Homo sapiens: one gene and its partners. The protein of the gene in region 4 purifies or fractionates together with the protein of the main gene of each other region. This does not show direct contact. Each region holds a gene or a part of one and is shown on either strand. Other genes may lie near its edges.

Evidence for each region.
Region 1: the proteins of SUFU (region 4) and MAP3K3 purify together in Homo sapiens (affinity purification with western blotting; one study listed by BioGRID). This does not show direct contact.
Region 2: the proteins of SUFU (region 4) and ARHGAP36 purify together in Homo sapiens (affinity purification with western blotting, with the first as the bait; one study listed by BioGRID). This does not show direct contact.
Region 3: the proteins of SUFU (region 4) and RUNX3 purify together in Homo sapiens (affinity purification with western blotting, with the first as the bait; one study listed by BioGRID). This does not show direct contact.

What each region holds. Positions count from the first base shown.
Region 1 is NC_000017.11:63,691,538-63,695,990, reverse strand, and holds part of MAP3K3 (mitogen-activated protein kinase kinase kinase 3), read right to left. Parts: intron 4,259-4,453; coding exon 4,129-4,258; intron 3,750-4,128; coding exon 3,572-3,749; intron 2,443-3,571; coding exon 2,214-2,442; 3' UTR 1-2,213. UniProt on the Homo sapiens protein: Component of a protein kinase signal transduction cascade. Mediates activation of the NF-kappa-B, AP1 and DDIT3 transcriptional regulators.
Region 2 is NC_000023.11:131,056,440-131,061,644, reverse strand, and holds the start of ARHGAP36 (rho GTPase-activating protein 36 isoform 1 precursor), read right to left. Parts: upstream 3,300-5,205; 5' UTR 3,259-3,299; coding exon of another isoform or gene 3,201-3,258; intron 1-3,200. UniProt on the Homo sapiens protein: GTPase activator for the Rho-type GTPases by converting them to an inactive GDP-bound state.
Region 3 is NC_000001.11:24,902,557-24,906,276, forward strand, and holds part of RUNX3 (runt-related transcription factor 3), read right to left. Parts: intron 111-3,720; coding exon 1-110. UniProt on the Homo sapiens protein: Forms the heterodimeric complex core-binding factor (CBF) with CBFB.
Region 4 is NC_000010.11:102,594,469-102,598,921, reverse strand, and holds part of SUFU (suppressor of fused homolog), read right to left. Parts: intron 1,786-4,453; coding exon of another isoform or gene 1,783-1,785; coding exon 1,629-1,782; intron 1-1,628. UniProt on the Homo sapiens protein: Negative regulator in the hedgehog/smoothened signaling pathway. Down-regulates GLI1-mediated transactivation of target genes. Down-regulates GLI2-mediated transactivation of target genes. Part of a corepressor complex that acts on DNA-bound GLI1.

The DNA of each region.
Region 1 (4,453 bases), on a different chromosome or scaffold from region 4:
TGCCCTTCAGAACCTTTGGGCCCAGGTCACCCTGAAGCCCCACAACTTTTTATCTGGATTAGTTATTAAAAAACAATAAATTAAGCAACAACTTGGTCCTGAGGATGCTGAGCCAGCATGTCCACAGTTTTTGGCACAAAAAAATTAGGGTCTGTTTTGCTTTTTTGGAGTGCAGGGTTTGTTGGCTTGTCTTCAAATTCATTTTCAAAACACATTCCCAGTGAGGTAAGACCCCAGGGGGTGGAGCTCTGTAAGACCCTGAACCTGGGACGCACAGTTGAGTCAGCCAGCACCGTGCTCTGTATCCTCTTGGGGAACAGGGACTGGGGATGGGGGTGCGGGCCAGGAAGAGTGTGCAGCCACCAAGATGGGGTCGTAGAGAGGCCGAGCTGCCACACAGCAGCTTTGGTCAAGATGAGGGCCAGGCCCCACCCTGGGCAAGGGCCGAGGTGGAAGCAGGAGCCTGTGTTGTCTTCAGAGGGCAGTGTGGGGTACAGGGGCTGATAGAGCCCCTGGGGGAACAGGGATGGACACAGGAGGGTCCAGGCCCAACTGGCGCATGCGACACACACTTCTGCAAAACCAGCTGCTTTCATTTTCTCTTCTCTCTCTTGAGGCGTCCGTCACCTGTAACAGTCTAGAATTGATATATATAAAAACCATCAAATATGATCTGAGATATAAATTAACAAGTACAAGGCCTCACATTACATGATGTGAAAAGGCTAAAAACAGCGATAGAAACTACATTCATAAAAGTGCATCGTCAACATACAACGAAGGCTTTGGCTTGTTCTGTGCCCATGGGGATGTAGGCATGGCTGGCAGGGCTGCCTGGCACTAATCCCCAGCTCCCTGGAGATGCCCATCCCTGGGCACTGGCTTTTTTTTTTTTTTTTTTCCTTTAATGACAACTCCCAAGGAAACTGGGTGTTGAGAGGGAGGAGCTCTAGCAATAGGCACATTTTGGAGGGGAGGGGCCGGAAGAAAGGACCAGCGCCCAGGCTGAGGTAAATATGGCCAACTCTAAGCTGCTTGGAGATGCTGTTTCCCCAACCCCTGCTGCCATTCCCCCTCCAGGGGAGGAGCTACAAGGGAAAGGGGCTGAGACCTCAAGGGGATGGGCGAGGCTGGCTGAGGAAGAACAGAGCTGGCGGTTTTGGACACAGCTGGTGGTAGCATATGGGCTTTCCCTTCTACCAGATGGAGTGGGCTCTGGCCTAGCAGGTCACGACTCAGGCAGCCTGAGACACCTCCTCGGGCTCTCTGGGATCAGGGCACTGGCCAGGCCAGATGCCCCGACCGTGTCGTCCATCTCCCCTTCTGCTCCAGTGGGGAACAAAGGCTGGGCCAGGAGCGCAAAGGCCACAACCTTCAGCTCTTTTCAATGCAGCCTAGGCCCAAGCCCAAAGCAGGGGTACTCAGAGCCCAGAGGGCACACACAGTCTCCAGTTTAGAAACTGGGTACAGCATAAGAGTGACTCCAACTTGTAAAACAGAGACAACTGCATTGACAAAACTGGATCCCCCCTCAGTGGCAGCAGTTCCACATCGCGGGCCCCTGCCTGGGAGAGGCAGGGTCATGGCCACAGGCAGGACAGGCTCCTCCTTCCCTGAATAAGGCAGCATGACATTTGCTTCATTCATCTTTGGTAAAGGACAGGACTGGCAGAGCCAACCTGGGACTCTAGGGGACGGCAGCCTGGGCCTCTGCCTGCCACTGCTAGCGAGTGCTGGCCTTTCCCTCAGGCTTGTGGGAGCTCATCCAGCCCAGAGATGCCCTGGTGGTCTCCAGACATTGGAAGGAAAAACAAAATAACACTTTGAATGAAAATAACACTCTTCATACCCTGGCGTCAGTCTTGTGCCCCCAGACCCTCTGGGCTTCGGTGCCAATTGCAGTGTCAGGACACATCCCCGAGGGTGGGGCCCACGGCTGCCTTGCACACTGTTCCCAGCCCCTACCCCTCCACGCTGAGCTCAGGACACTGGAGCTCCTGGATCTGACAGGCTGGGGGCTCCCAGTCCTGAGGCTGCAGCCACCCCACCCCGGCTCTGAGCCCCAGTGGCGGAAGGGGCACAGACCGACGCTGGCTGGGCTGCCACTCCATGGTCCACAGCCTTGCCTGGGAGAAGCAGCAACTTCACTGAGCCCAGCAGCAGCCCCCTGCCATGCAGCAAAGGGCGACCGGCAGCTGTGTGGCCGTGAGAGCTCAGTACATGAGCTGTGCAAAGTGGTGTGTGAGCAGCTCCTCAGCTGAAGGTCTCTGGCGAGCCTCCACAAAAATGCGCCTCAGGAAGTCCCGGCCATGTTCAGAGATGTGGGAGGGCAGCTGAGGATTGGTGGGCTGGGTGGCAATCTTGAAGATGGCGGCCATAGCTTCATACTCTGCCCACGGTGGTTTCTCTGTCAGCATCTCCACCACAGTGCAGCCCAGGCTCCTGGAAAGAGAGAACCCCGTGTCACCCCTCAGCCAGCCCTGGACTCCCAGCTGTCCTGCCCACCACTGCAGAAAGAGGCGCCTTTCTCACAGCAAGCTGAGGTGCAGGACAGGCCAAGCTGAGGGATACCTCAGCTTGGATGTCTGTCCACGTGGGCTTCATGGACCTACACTCACCACACACCTGGGTACTTCTTGAAATAAGGAAAAAGAGAATCACTTAGACTTGACAGAAAGAACTCTACAATAACTGTATTAGCTACCCATAGCTGCTCTTAACAAATGACCACAAACTTAGAGGCAGGAAAACAACACAAATGTATCATCTTACAGTTCTGAAGGTCAGAGGTCTAAAATCAGTCTCACAGGGCTAAAGTCAAGGTGGCGGCAGGGCTGGTTCCTGTCAGAGGCTCTGAGGGGAGAACCTGTTTCCTTGCCTTTCCTGGGTTCTAGAGGCCACCTGCATTTCGTGGCTCATGGTCCCCTCCTTGTATTACTCCAACCTCTTGCTTTCATTGTCTCACCTCCTATTAGCCACTCTGACCTCTTGAGACCCTTCTGTAAGGACCCTTAATCCAGGATAATCCATCCATCTCAAAACCCTTAACCTAATCCTATCTGCAAAGGCCCTTTGCTATATACAATCACATTTACAGATCCAGGGATTAGGCAGTGGACATCTTTGGGGGGGCCATTATTCAGCCCACCACAATAGCTTTCCAAGGGGAGAAGCTCTCCTGACTTAGGGGCCATTTCAGAGGATAGACACAAGGTTATGTCGAGCAAGTGCAAACTGTCTTGAGTGCTAGGAGAAGGGACAGAAGCCTGCTCCTGTTGAGAGACTGGTCCAGGCCTTCAGGCCTTCAGAGTGGATCCTGCTTCCTTAAGAGATTTAGCAAACATGAGGGATGTTTTCCATGGCCTAAGTTCCCAGCTCTAATGGAGTGTGCTTTGAGCACCACCCATGTGGTGTGTGTGCTACTGCACCCAATAATACCCTTGCACACACTGCAGCCTGGGCCCTGGGCACACTCCCTCCTGCCACACCACAAAGTCCCCAGGGTGTGTTTCTAATGGGGGGCCACTATGGCCTGGGTGGAAGAATGGGTTCTGCATGTCCCAGTGCTCACCACACGTCTGCTTTCCTTCCATAGCCCTCGCCGCTGATCACCTCAGGGCTCATCCAGTAGGGTGTGCCAGTGACGGAGCGCATGCCCGTCCCCGACATACAGATCGTCTGCAGGCGTTTGCTGGCCCCAAAGTCCCCCAGCTTTACATTCCCAGCAGAGTCTCGGAGGATGTTGGCTCCTGAGGCATGAAAGGGCAGAGGCTGCAACCCTGGACCCTCTTGCATTTTCTCCCATCCTCCCCACCCCCGGGTCACTGAGAGCTGCTGGAGAGGGCAGGGCTACCACTGAATTAGACATGAACTGCAAAGGGCAAAGGATTTAGCAAAGGGGAGTCTCAGATCTACCGCACAAAATGACCATCTCCAAGGCCCACATGTAGAGGGAACTTGGCAATATTCTCTCATATTGCTCAACCAATCTCACCAGTTCCTCAGGGAAACAACTGGGGTCCCACTTTTCAGAAAGTTCAGAATGGTTAAGTGATTGGCCCCTGCAGGCACTCAATGGTAGACTTGAACCCAGGTCCTGGGGACTCCATGTATCCTGGCCCTGCTCACCCTTAATGTCCCGGTGAACAATCATGTTGCTGTGCAGGTAGGACATGCCCTCCAGGATCTGCCGCGTGTACTTTCGGGTCACGCTCTCTGTCAGAGCACCGTAAGCCTTCAACTGGTCTTTCACCGAGCCCTGGAGGCCACAAGAAGTCAGAGGAGTCCCCTCAGGGGAGGGCTGGTGGAGGGGCAAGCCCATTCCAGCCCCCAGCATGGCAGCAAAGGAGTGATTTGTTCAATTCCTATCTGGCTGGGCAGGGCATTTTGCCAGGAGCTGTCAGGCAGTTTGGAAAAGAGAGTACCCCAAGTCCTTCTCAAGCAGAGCGCCACC
Region 2 (5,205 bases), on a different chromosome or scaffold from region 4:
AAACTGATCCTGCTGCAGCACAACTAGGCCTGGCCTCAGCAAATCGATTCGGTCCCATCTCCAAGAAAAGATCAAATTTGTATGTAAAGTGCGCCCCAGGGTCCCTTCAGCTTTAGAGCTTTGGCTGCTTTACAGAAGTCCAATTGTTTGAGGCCAAATCCAATGCCAAGAGTGAACTGGGGAGAGAATTTCAAGTGGGTCAATTGTGCTGTCTCTTTCCCTGGGAAAGAAGGCCTTTCTGGGCCCTCATTCCTCCCAGACCTCAGTGATGCCTCTCCCAAGTGCCTTCCTATGGTTGCCCATTGCCCGTTGTCGCCCTGAAAAATCTCTCTGATGCAAACCAACGTGGCACATGTATACCTATGTAACAAACCTGCACGTTCTGCACATGTATCCCAGAACTTAAAGTAAATTTTTTTAAAAAAGAGTTGAACAAAAAAAAAAATAGCAAACATCAACAAAAGAGTGATGATATTCTAATGAAGACAAAATAAACCTGCCCCTCAAAAAAAAAATTGCTGTCACATGCCAGCTATCTCTTGGGCAAGGGGAATGGGGGTGAAGGAACATTTAGATACTGCCCCAGTTCTGTCCAGTCAGCTGACAGCTTCCTCCCCCAACCCCATCTCTGACTCCTGAAGACTTCTGAAGGACATTCAAAGGGAGGCACCAAAGCAATTATAGCCCTGCAGAATATCAATAGTTACCCACAAAGTTACCCTTCACATTGTACAGCATTTCTCAGGGGGAGTGCAATGAAATGAGCTGTTGCCCAGTCAAAAAACTACCCAAAGATTATTTATTTCAAAGTGATGCCCTGTGACTTAAGTGAGATTATACATGTAAGCAATTGAGCCTAAGGGCCCAACATTTGGGAAGAGCTTCACATATATCAGCTGCTGTTGTTTGAGTAATAGAGCTGATGTAGGCAGTGGTGTGCTGCAGGGGTATGTTGGGGAACAGGTACCACCAGACTAGAAATGCAGCAGCGAATATAAGGTCTTACACTTGAGTTCAAACACCAAATACAGAATGGAGACTCCAAAAAGAACTTGGGTTTACTTAAGGAAAAAGAGTAGCTTTCGTTGAAAGTAATTCAATGTGAATAAAGTCTTTGTGTGAACTGTGTGGCTGTGCATGGGATTTGTGAGTGGTGCATACACAGGTGATGTGAGTATATTGTGTTGTGTGTGGAAAGTATGTGGTGCATGTGAAGCGTGTGTGTGTGTGTTCGTGGCTTTGCAAATGGGCATGCATAGGTGTGGTAATGTGTATGTTATGGGTGTGTTTATGACTACGTATGTGTGTACCTTGGGTGTGGTGTAGGCTTCTAAAAGAGGGAAAGTCAGCTTTCCAGGACTATATTTATAGGGGCACAGCTGGAAAGCCTCTTTTGGCCTGGTCACTGGACATTTATAACTTGGAGCATGTTCAAAGAAAAGCAGCTAGACATGGGTAGGGGCCTTGAAGCTATGTCACATGTTAAATAGATGAAGAAACTGGGGAAGTTTGGCCTAGGTAAGAACAGGGTGAGTAGGGGATGGGACAATGGGGAGAGCTGACACTGTTTCCTAGGAAGGAGGACCATGGAAGTCAATGCCAGGGCCAGAAGGTGGAAGTTCCCAGGACATAGATTTGGGTTCAGTTTAAAGAAAAGCCTTCTAATTCTAATAGACATTGCTGTTTTTAGATGGGAATGGGCTTCCTGGTGTAATATGGACTCCCTCCTATGTGGTTACTCATAAAGGAGCCTTCATGTCCTTGATCTCATTGGAGTCACATGACAACCTTCTAGTCCAAGCAACTGTGAAATGTTTCCCCCACCCCCTTTTTCAGGGTATACTGTTAGAGCAGTAAGGCCTTAAAAGACATCTTATAAAACTCCCTTATATTTTTGATTCACCAGGATCATATAAACCTTAAAAATATGCAAAAGAAAAAATTAAACTCTGTGTGTATGCAGATCTTTTTCCTTCTCAGAGATCTTGTTGCTGGCCTGAGGCTGTACTTGAACTGCCTAAGCAAGCTGTAGTCTTTCAGCAGGAGGTCAAACTCCTGGGATGGTTCTCAGCAGGGTGTTGGGGCTGGCAAGAACTAAAAACAGGTCTCTGCTGAATTAAGTTGCTGAGGCCCCTCCTTTCCCTGCTTCCCCTCCCCCGCCTGTGAAGGGACAGAGGAAAGAGGAGACAACCCCAGGTTTGGTCTATGGCTGGTGCCCAATGACGCACTCTCACCAATATAGATTTTGGAGGTGGAGACTATGAAAAAACAGGTGGCTGTGGGGGCAGGTGGCAGCCTGAAGGGGGTGGGGCTTATTATCAAGGGGGAGTGAAGGACAGTGTGGGTGGGGGTCCTGGGGTATGTCAAAAAGAAAATATCAGTCTCCTGAAACTTTAAGGATGAAAATATAATCAGTTGTCAAAATGTACTTTGTAGAAGCAGTTCCCGAAAAGGGGTGAAATGTGACCCACATATGCCGGTGCTGTGATCTTTGCACACTTGTGTCCTCAATTCCACAGAAATAGGGAAACCAAGCATTGATCTCAAGTACCCAAGGAAAGAACCCGACTAAAGACCGCAGGGGTCCACTACTGGGCAGTCTGGGGCAGTGGGCAGCTGGCAGAGCCTAAGCTGACCCAGGTATGCTGCCAACCTGTTGGGTAACCTTGGGCAGGCTTTTCCCATCTTCAGTGTCATCATCTCTTAAATGAAGGGGTTAAATTCGACGACTCTAGGGGGTCCATTGCTGATATTCTGTGTTTGAGATTGAGACAAGGGGACGAACTTCAAGGCAAAATGAATACCCGCCTCCTTCAGGGTCCCTGGGGCCTGGCTTGCCCTGTCAGGGACATTCATCCTTGGGCCTTGAGGGTCCTTGAGTTGCGGGACGCCGCTCCTGCGCGTCTGGCCCCAAGGCTCTGGCTGTCCCTGCCGGCGGCTGAGCCAGCGACTCCGCCCACGCGCTCGTCCCGCGTACCGCCGAGCCATTAGCGCGATTGCTCGCGGTTCCCGGCAAAGCTGGTGATTTATGCGGGGCCTCGACGGGGCAGTCCCTTGAGCCAGGAACAATTAGCTAAAAGCCAGCAGGAAGGGAGGCAAGGGGGCGACCAGCCAAGCCCCAGGGCGCCCAGAGGGGGCTGCAGCCGCCGGCCGCCCCCGGCCGAGCACCCCAGCCCCCCGACTCGGTGGGCCCCACTCACCACGGCGGGGGCGGGGCTCAAAGGCCGAGGCGAAAAGGCAGTCCAGTATCCACGCCATGACCCGCGCTGAGTGCCCGGCAGCTCGCAGTTAACCTTTGCGTCGTCCCCCGCACCGGCGGCCCTAAGTAGCCCCCGGTGACCACGCCCTGAGCCGCACCCTGCACCCAGCTAAGAGTGTTTCGGTCACCGGACACCTCGAGCATGTCACGAAGGGGGCAGGGCCTCCGGGGAACCCCCCCTCCTGCCAGAAGAGAGGCCGCTGGTCCCGCAGCCCCTTGCCCCACGCGAAGGGAGGCAGAGACACACAGCTCCTGTCCTGGGAAGCTGATTCTGAGGGCGGGACCCTGCCCCTACCCCAGGGAGCCCAGAGTCTGAGGGGAGACGCCATCTCAGCCCTGGTGAGCCCCAAATCTGAGAGGGAGGGAAGGTCCTTGTCCCCCAGCCCCACCCCAGGAGCCCTTGATCGGGCACATAAAAGCAGGCCTGCCCCCAAAGGCTGGAATTTGAAGGCGAGGTAGCGCACCTGTCCCAGGGAGCCTCAGATCTGAGAGCGAGACAGTATCCCAGGCTCTAGAAAACTCCACGATTTAGCGGAGCGTTATCTCAGCCCTCAAGAGGCCTAGTCTAAGCGGGAAGCAGTGTGTTCCCCAGGATCCCTGAATCTAAAGGGGAGATGCTGTCTCAGCCCTTGGGGACCCTCCCACCCCCACCCTTAACCCCTCTCTTAGGGCAGGCATCACCTCAGCCCCGAGTAGCTCCAAGTCTGATTTAAATCACTGGTCCGTTCTAGAGGACCAAGAATGTGAGCAGGAAAAACGATTTTGCCGCCTCCCCCAAGAAGTCCCATATCTGAGAGTAATCTTACTTCCCTTCTCCTGCGAATTCCGCAGCGAAGAGGGAGATGCTCTCCTGCCTGGGAACCTTTGTACTGAGGGGGTTGATCATCAACTGAGATAAAAGAACCCAGTGTCAAGTATGTATAAACGTGGGGTGCCCCCCAGTTGCTGCCGACTTACAGATTCCACTGCCAATGCTTTTGCTCAGGGCACTGATATGGGAGGGGGACCCACATTTATTTTTAGAAAGAATTTGATATTTGATATTTCAATGGAGGGTGGTACTGTGTTGGATTTTCTTACACTTCTTTTATGGCTTTGTATTTTTACGTTTTAAATACATATGGAAGCACGTGCCATAATGGGTTCAGTGTTTGGGGCCTCTGGTGGTGGTAAAAAGAGCCCTGCCCCCCAAATCCTGGGGTAGAAGCAGCCACCAGAGATGGACCACATTAGGCAGGAAGGGCTTCTAAACGAAATTTCCTTTTTACTTCAAGCCCAGGGGCCCAAATTAATTTCTCTCCCAATTCGCCAGTGGTAGCTCCACAGACGTGACTCTGTGCCTTGTTTTTCTCCACTGGGAGAATGGGGCTCTGTTGATCAAAATGCTAGTGAGGAGGTAGAAAGAAATATGGAAAATCTCCTTCCAACAGTTCGATTGCAGGCCAGAGGAGTGGAAGCCTCAATCACTGGGTCCACTGGGGAGAGCAGTTATTATATTTGCTTTGCTAACCACTGATATTAGTATTAATGCGGCAAAAGGGGTGCATAAAATGGAAAAATTGCCTGTACTTTGCTGTACAATTCTTAGCAAAGCAGAGCTATCTTCAGAGTTTAAAGGCCCTCCACTTGTTTTCCTTCCTTTCTGGGAAAAATGGTACCTCTCTGCCTTTGTACCAACTTCTAAATCATTTTGATTTTCTCTGTTTTCTAAAAGCAATCACAGACAACAAACACTCACCAGACCTGCTCTTTTACCGATTTCTTCTTTACGAATACTTAGTCATCCAAGCCAAACAAGCCTAACATCTAGAAATGTCCAGTTTCAGGCCCTGGATATTGAAATCTCAGCCTTACCTCTTCCCATGAGCTTATCCAGCACCAGCTTTTGAAATGGCCTCAATGGGTTCCTTTTTTTTCCAACTGAATGAGCTTTTTTTGGGCTCCCT
Region 3 (3,720 bases), on a different chromosome or scaffold from region 4:
GGGATAATGCATCCTGGGGTCTGGGAAGCGGCTCTCCGTGAGGGTTGGCAGCGTGGGGAAGGAGCGGTCAAACTGGCGGGGGTCGGAGAATGGGTTCAGTTCCGAGGTGCCTGGAGGACAGCAGGGAAGAGGTCAGTTCCAGCTCGAGACAACCCCAGGAGGGCTTCCTGAAGAATGACCTTGGGCTCTGGTTCCCAAGGCCCATCTGGGGGACCCCTAGTTCTAGACCTGGCTCTCCTCTTCCTGCCCTAGGCTGCCCGGGGCCTCCCCCGCCAGGACTCCGAACACAGACCTGCCGGGAAGCTGGTTGGAGCGTGCCCCGGGCCAAGAGGGGCCATGGGAGCCCCCCCACAGCAGCAACAGAACAGAGGAGGGGGTCTATTCTTCTTTTTAAATCCTCCTTCCCAGCCTCGCAGAGGAGAGGCCTAGGATGCGGTGGTGGGGCTGAGGGCAGAGTCAGCTCAGGCCTCCCAGCAGCCCTGCCCAGGCAGGTTCCTCTCCCCACCGGCCCATGTTAACAGCTGGGAAGGCCGTGGATGTGTAAAGGGCTCCAATGACCGTGTGAGACTGGGAGTTGGAACCCGCTTTTGAAGACAAGAAAATGGAGGCAGAGAGAGAGCAAGACTGAGTCTCTGTGGCAGAGAAAGGACTGGTTCTCATCACAAGGCCTCTGCTGGGGACACACGTGCCTCTCCTGCCCAGGTGCAGCACGCGGAGGTTCTGTGCGCTCACACCTGGGTTGTGGGCACTGAGTTCACAGGAGCTCTGGCCTCCACCTCACCCTGGGCCTGTGTCTCTGGAGCCGACTCGTGGCCACACAGTGACTGGATGCCACCCTAACCTGCCTTGGCAGCAAAGTGAGACAGCAGTCAGACAAACTTGGGGACCCAGACCCCAACCTGGTCACAGTGTCCAGCCCAGACTCTGCCCCTGCTCCCCCAGGAATGTGGCTTCTCAATGGGCTCCAAGGCAAGGGTGTTCCATCCTCTGTCCCCAACTTTTGTCATCACAGACCCCCAAAACCTCAGCATTCAAAGGGGCTCAGGGATTGAGTCTAACACCCTTGATGGGGAAACTGAGGCCCAGACAGGGTGAGGCACTTCCCTCAGGGTCACACAGCACATTGGACCTGGCACACAATCCTAGGGCCTCTGGTCCTGAGCCCCAACACGTACTTGAGAGGGAGCTGTCCCGTCTTTGAGGCAGCACAGGATCAAGGCTTACTGTGTGGCTTCTGGAGCCGGACAGTTATCCTGGTTTGGACACTTACTAGCTTTGTGTCCTTGGGCAAGTCACTTAACCTCTCTGCGCATCAGTTTCCCCATATAAAACATGAGACGATAACAGTTCATCAGGATTCAGTTAATTCACATCGAGTACTTAGAATGGCACTGGGCACAGAGCAGGGGTCCATGAGGCTTTGCAAGGCCACTGTGGCTGTGGTGTCTCTTACTCTGGGTACCCAGGAGAACTGGCTCATTCAGGGCCCTGCCAAGTTGAGGCCCTGGTGCAGGGCCTCCCTTCTACTCTGGCAGCCGGGGGAGGTGGATGAGCCCCCAGCAGTGGTCCAGAGGTGCAGTCTGTCCAGCCCAGCAACCCCTCTGTGTCACCCACCAAAGGATAAGGGCCGGTGCTAGCCGGAGTGGGCTCTGCCTGCCACGCCGAGGCTTGGCTGAGGACGGAGAGCTATGAGCCTGAGGTGTGTGTGACTTCGGCTGGGACTTGGAACTTCTCGGGGCTTTGGGGTCTTCCCAAGTCAGCTGGGGTATGTTTCCCTCAGCAGCGTACTCTGGCCCTGGGCGTGGATCCGAACGGAGTGATGCTCCTGGCTTAAGGTAAGAAGATGTGGGGACAGCAGTCTGGGTGGCGGGGGCCTTCTGGGACATCTGGGATGTTCCCTAGTAGGTCACTTGGCTGTCCCGGCCCCTTGAGGCCGAGAGCCTCCGAGGCACCTGGCTGCCAGTTTTCATCTGGGGAGCCCCTCGGGGGGAGAGGTCCTGTTGCAGGTGCTGGGCACGTCAGCACAGCTGAGATGGGTGGGGTGGAAGTGGGTGCTGGCCGCCTGATGGGAACCCCATTCTCAAGACGAAGGAAACAAATGGGGACCGCAGGATACAACGGCAGGACTGTGCCCCTCAGAGCTCACGCGGGCTGCAGGGCGCTGGGCTGGGCCTCCCTGGACCTGCCACCATCCCCTCCAGCCTCTTTCCTCAGGGCCACCACCCCTCCTCCGGGGTGGTGGGGGAAGTACCTGCCCTCAGCACTCCCTCAGACCCCCCAGCAGCTTCCTTGGAGCTCCTGTACCCCCACCCTGCGGCCTCGCAGCCCCAGGAAACCCGAGCTGCCCGGGGCACTGTCGAGTGGCCAATCCCAACAGTGGAAAGAAATGTTTATTTTCTTCTCCAGATTGTCCGGGCTGCTGCATGGTGGCTGAATGAGCCCTTTCAGCTGTGAGAAGCCCCCATTGTGGGCGGCTGCGGCTGGGGGCTGGGGCTGGGGTATGGGAGGTGCTGGGGTCTCTGCACTGCTTGCCAGTGACCAATATTGGAGGGTCAAAGCACTTAACAGGCACCGAGGGAAGTGGTGGTGGGGTGTCCCAAGGGGGATCCCCAGGAGGGAGTCCGAGGGCAGAGGGAGGAGGGCCTGTGAGAGTGACTTCCCAAGCCTAGGTCTGCCAGCAACCCCTCTTTGTCAGGGACCTCCTTCTCCCCACTTCACAGATGAGAAAACTGAGGCTGAGTTTAAGTGACTTGTCTAAGATCATACAGCCAATGCCTGGCAGAGCCTGAATTCCTAGCCTGGTCCAGCTGACTGCAGAGTTCATGCTCGCCCTGTCCTGGTCATCCGAGGCCCTTTCTCTCACCCAAAGGGGATGGGCCTGAGGATGGAGATGCCTGGCTGCCTGTGGCCCAGTGCTGTGGGGGGCTAGCGAGGGACTGGGCCAGGCCTCAGGAGGGAGCAGGCAGAGAAGCAGAAGTCAGCCACTGCCCCACACAGGCTGGGCTCCTTTCCTCCCAGCCCAGGATGGAAGCAGCAGCTGTGCCTGCCGTGGGGCCAGGCATTGATTCCCAAGCTGTGCCCACCCAGCAGTGGATGGGCAGATGTGGGCTCTCCTTCCATGGGGGCTGGTGGACAGGAAGCCACTGTTCACCCCACCTCCTGGATTCTGGCTCCCCCGCTGAGCCCCGATCCCCTGGCCTGGCTCTGTCCATGGCAGAGAAAGGCTGGCTCTCAGGCTACTGCACCTCGACAGATGCTGGCCCATGGGTAGCAGAAGCAGAGGCAGCTACGCGGCAGGGGTGGGCGTGAGCACAGCGTGCAGGGCTCCTTCCGCTACCTCTTGAGAGCAGACCTCCAACTCCTGGGCTCGAGAGCTGAGAGTCTCAAATGCACTAGCTCCTGGGCTCAGAGAGGCTGGGCCTGGGGCTTCTCCCAACCTTGGCGTCTCAGCAGGACCAAGGCCAAAAGTCCTGAGCCCAGGCCAGAAGGGGAGGGGTCCTCTCTTCACACTGAAGGCCTGCATCCAGCCCCTGGCTGCAGCACTATGCCTGGAACAATGTCAGTAGAGAGACCCAGTCGGCCCCCACCTCAGCGTGGCACCGGAAAAGGGGGTGGGGCAGGCAGACCGGTTGGCAGCCCTGTTCCAGGCCCCTTTATCTGTCCCCTCAGAAGTACAGAAAGTTCTTGGGAGCAGGTACTGTGGAGACTGTGGACCTGGTC
Region 4 (4,453 bases):
TCTATCCCAGGAAACTCTGCCTCTCCATGGAGAGGCAAGGGCCAGGAAGTGAAAGAGTTCCCTTGGTGGGATTATTTCTTTGTAAGGTGCTTTGCTGGTCTTTGGGATGAAGCTTACTAGTCTGGTCCCCTGTATTGAGATTTGGATCTAAATTTACCTCTGCAAACTGTAAACAGATACAAAAAAGCAAATTAAAATTAGTTGCTCAAAGAGTGGCCTTAGAGTGGGAAGGAGATGATTACTAACTTTTCTAACTATTTGACTTGTTACAGTGGAATGGATTACTTTTACAATTTTTAAAAATAGCCAGTAATGACTGAAATTTTAGACAAGACTATGACTCCCTCTTTAAATCACCTCTTTTGTCAAAAGCAACCAAATGATTCCAATAACTGTATACCCTCTCTTTGAGCCTCCAATAGGCTTGGCATGCCATTAGAACAAACAGGAAGGAAAGAAAGGGCTTGGCCGGGTGCGGTGGCTCACATCTGTAATCCCAGCACTTCGGGAGGCTGAGGCGGGTGGATTGTTTTGAGCTCAGGAGTTTAAGACCAGCGTGGGCAACACAGCGAAGCCCTGACTCTACAAAAAAATACAAAAATTAGCTGGGCGTTGGTGGCTCACGCCTGTAGTCCCAGCTACTTGGGATGCTGAGGCTGGAGAATCACTTCAGCCTGGGAAGCAGAGGTTGCAGTGAGCCAAGATCAACCCACTGTACTCCAGCCTGGGCAACAGAGACCCCTGTTTCAAAGAAAAAAAAAAAGAAAGGGCTCAAATATTTGCACTAGGAGTTTAAGTTTGTCCTTTACAGAACGAACAAAAACCTTTTATAAGTGTTATCATATATGTAAGGATTTTATTCAGGGCTGTAGACATCTTATTCTTCAAAAAAAGAAAAGATGGAAGAATGAAGAAAGGAAGTAGACAAAGAAGCTGTCAACACATGTATATGTAAGTGGCTGCTTCTCCTTTGCAGTTAGCTGGGGACGCCCTCTACTAAAAACCACAACTGTTTCTGTAGCCAAGATCAGCACAGGGAGATTCCAACAGGACAGCCACATCCTCCTTCCCAAAGACCCCATCCGGAACACGGTGGGTCCAGAGGCCCTGCCCACAGCCCCTAACCCTGTATCTATATGACAGGAGGTGGGCAATTTGCAAGCCAGCCTCACACTCAGGCCTCATTTGTTGAAGGCCTGGGAGGGCCCGAGGCCAGAGTGATCCTTGGATCTGGCATGGCCTTCAGGCCAGAGCTGGGCCCTGTGTCAATTCCGTGGGTGGCCGACACTTTTCTCTTGCACTTGGGTGGACTATGGACTTTTCCTGTAACTGTTCTGAGGCTTCCACTCACCTCCATGACCTCAGATTGCAAAGGGCATATCTAAAACACAACGGTGCCTGCTGGTGATGCATTTGAAATACACACAGGAAACACAACTAGGAATGGGCCAATAAAGCTCCCTTAATTCCGCCCTGCTGGAAGACTTCACTTGCTGTTTAAATCATGCCAGGAAATAAACTATTGAATGGGTTGTTTTTGTTAGAGACCCATCCTAGAGAGACTGGAAACCAGGCCCTGGGGAAAAGGAAGGAGGAAGGCTGGTGGAATGCTGAGTGATGGCTCCCACCTTTGCCAGAGAGTCGCCGGGGCTGTGTGCCGATGCAGATGCTCCGGCTGTCCTCGTCATCCTCGGGGGGCCGGCTCAGGTCATCCCAGGCACACTTGGCACTGACACCACTCAGGTTGGAGCCATCTGTCTCGATGCCTTTGTCAACTCTCTCCTGCTTGAAAAGAACCAAAGAGCCAGAGTTCTTTCAGAGAACTGGTGACCCAAGGTGACCACCCTTTCAGCCACTGCTCTTACAGTATTTACTGAGCCCTTGTGGTGCTGAGCATGGGACAAATGCTGGAGAGCAGGATCTCTGACCTTGTTCTGCCCTGGTTACCAATGCATGATGGTCTCTGCCAGCTCCTGGACTCCTCCAGGGGAACCAGGGATTAGGGGAAGCCAGGAGGAATGCAAATCCCAAGGGAAACATCTCTTCTACCATCAGCCTTCCAGCACAATGGCCTCTACCTGTTTCAGAGCCCCAAACCTGTCCCCGCCACGCTGGCTGGTGGGGCTGATGTGGCCATGAGAGAGCCTACTTCTCTGAGGAGAGGTGTGATCCTTCCTCTCCTCCCGATCTTCAGGCAGAACCTCCCAGTCACTGCTATAGAAAACAGGGTGGAAGCCTGCCACAGGCAACAGGCCACACCTGCAGTTTCCCCTTCTAACAGCTAGAGGGTGTGGTCACACAGGGAAGAGCCACTGGAGAACAAAGGCTGGACTTCCCTAGATGCATTGGTTCCCTTGTTTAGCAAAGGACTCTGGATGGAGATTCCTTCCCATTTCTTAGACTGAAATGGGGGCCTAGAGTGCAGTGACTATCTGCAGACACCCTTCTCTCCCCATCGAGACCCTGCCTTTGTGCAGGCCTTGGTACTGCTGAGTACAAACACTCTCCAAATGGCTTCAAGGAAGAGTTGTACTCAAAACATCCCTGGATTTTCTGGTAAAACACAGTTCATTGATGCTGGACCTTGAATTAAAAGTCATCTGGAAGGCTCTATGTCCATGTGGGCCAAATCAAGCTTGTGACTGAGCATCTCAACAATAATCTGTGCTTCCCGGCTCCACAGGTACCACACTGGCCTGCTGATCAGCCCAGAAGCCCCATGTGGGAGAAGTACAGGTACTGTCCTTATTTCCTGGGACCAGTCAGCAAGTGGCTCTGCCCCAGACGCCTCCTTCCCATCAGTCATCTCCTCCTTTCAAGTGCTAATGCTGGCCTGGGCAAAGCTGTGGGTTCCGAGCAGGAAGAGGCTAAGCAGGGAAGCGCTCTGTGTACTCTGGGCAGGGAGCATGTATACCCTGGTGTGCTCAGGGGATAGTCTGAGCTTTTTCCTCTGCACTGGCTGCCCTGGGGTCCCTCACTTAGGTAAAGAGTTGCAGACAGACAATTCTTGGCTCAACTTGTCTGGGCTATTTACTTTATAAGTAAAAAGAAAAAGTTAAGACCCAGAAGGCGAGGGACTTATTTGGGCACACAGCTGGTTAGTGTAGAGCTTGAATCACAGGAATATATGCCAGCTCTAAAGAGACTGATAGCAAGCAGGCCCCAGAAAGGCACAGTGAATACAGAGGAGTTCACACTTGGTGCACAGAGCCACCAGGAAAGAAAGCTGTCCTTTGTTCCTGTGGGACCCTGGCTTGCTTTCAAAGACCACTAGGTGCTCCGGGTCCTGTGGGCTGCTCTCAGGGGATCCTGCAGACTAGGAAGAACAGCCCTTGGCATGGAAGGACAGCTGTTTACCCTACTAGTGCAAAGGACCAGGTTCTTTCTTAGTACTTGGCACTTATGACAGGGGCCAAACAACGGCCCACAGTGCCCCATGCTGGATCCCAGTGTGGCTACAGAACAAGGGCTTAGGGAAAGATAGCCTTCCTGGTTCCTGGTTCTTGCATATGCAGAAGATACAAGGAAACCAAGTTTAAAGCAGAGAGAACAGAGGATCCTGGCAGCAGTTTGAAATGTTCAGTGTTAAAGGCACTAGGAAAACAGAGGAGCATCATCTGTGAATGAAGAGGATTTATGCCCAAGAACTCACAAGTCTACAGTGAAGAACTCAGGGGCTGCTGGCTACATGTCCATCTGCCACCTTTCTCTTGCTCTAACACATGGAACTCCCGGCAACTGCCTGTGGCCTACCAGATATTTTACAGAAGCATGGCAGGTTTAGAGATGGCAATGACCTGCATTTGGTCAGGGGAGTAGAAGGAGCCAGACACCAGGCAGGTAACATTATTAGCTGTCTGTGGCTCCTGCTTCAAGAGAAGCCCATAAGAAAGGCAGTTATGGGCCAGGCGCACTAGCTCAAACCTGTAATCCCAGCACTTTGGGAGGCCGAGGCGGGCGGATCATCTGAGGTCAAGAGTTCGAGACCAGCCTGGCCAACATGGTGAAACCCTGTCTCTACTAAAAATACAAAAAATTATCTGGGCGTGGTGGTGGGCGCCTGTAATCTCAGCTACTCGGGAGGCTGAGGCAGGAGAACTGCTTGACCCTGGGAGGCGGAGGCTGCAGTAAGCCGAGATTGTGCCACTGCACTCCAGGCTGGGTGAGAAGAGCGAAACTCCGTCTCAAAAAAAGAAAAGGCAGTTACGTTCTTGTGGCTTTCAAACTTTACCTGCATGACAAAGGAATGCTTCTAAAACAGCAAAGATGACACTGAAACAATGTCCAGGTGGGCCACAGGGAGTGGGCAGCTGCCAGCCTGTGTGTCTAAGGTGCCAATCTTTCCAGGCTAGGAGCTCTGCATCTGACTGTCCAAGATAGAAAATGTGGCGAAAATGGGGATAGGACCATTAGACCAATCAGCCCTCACTCCTGCAGCTGAGCCATGGAGTCA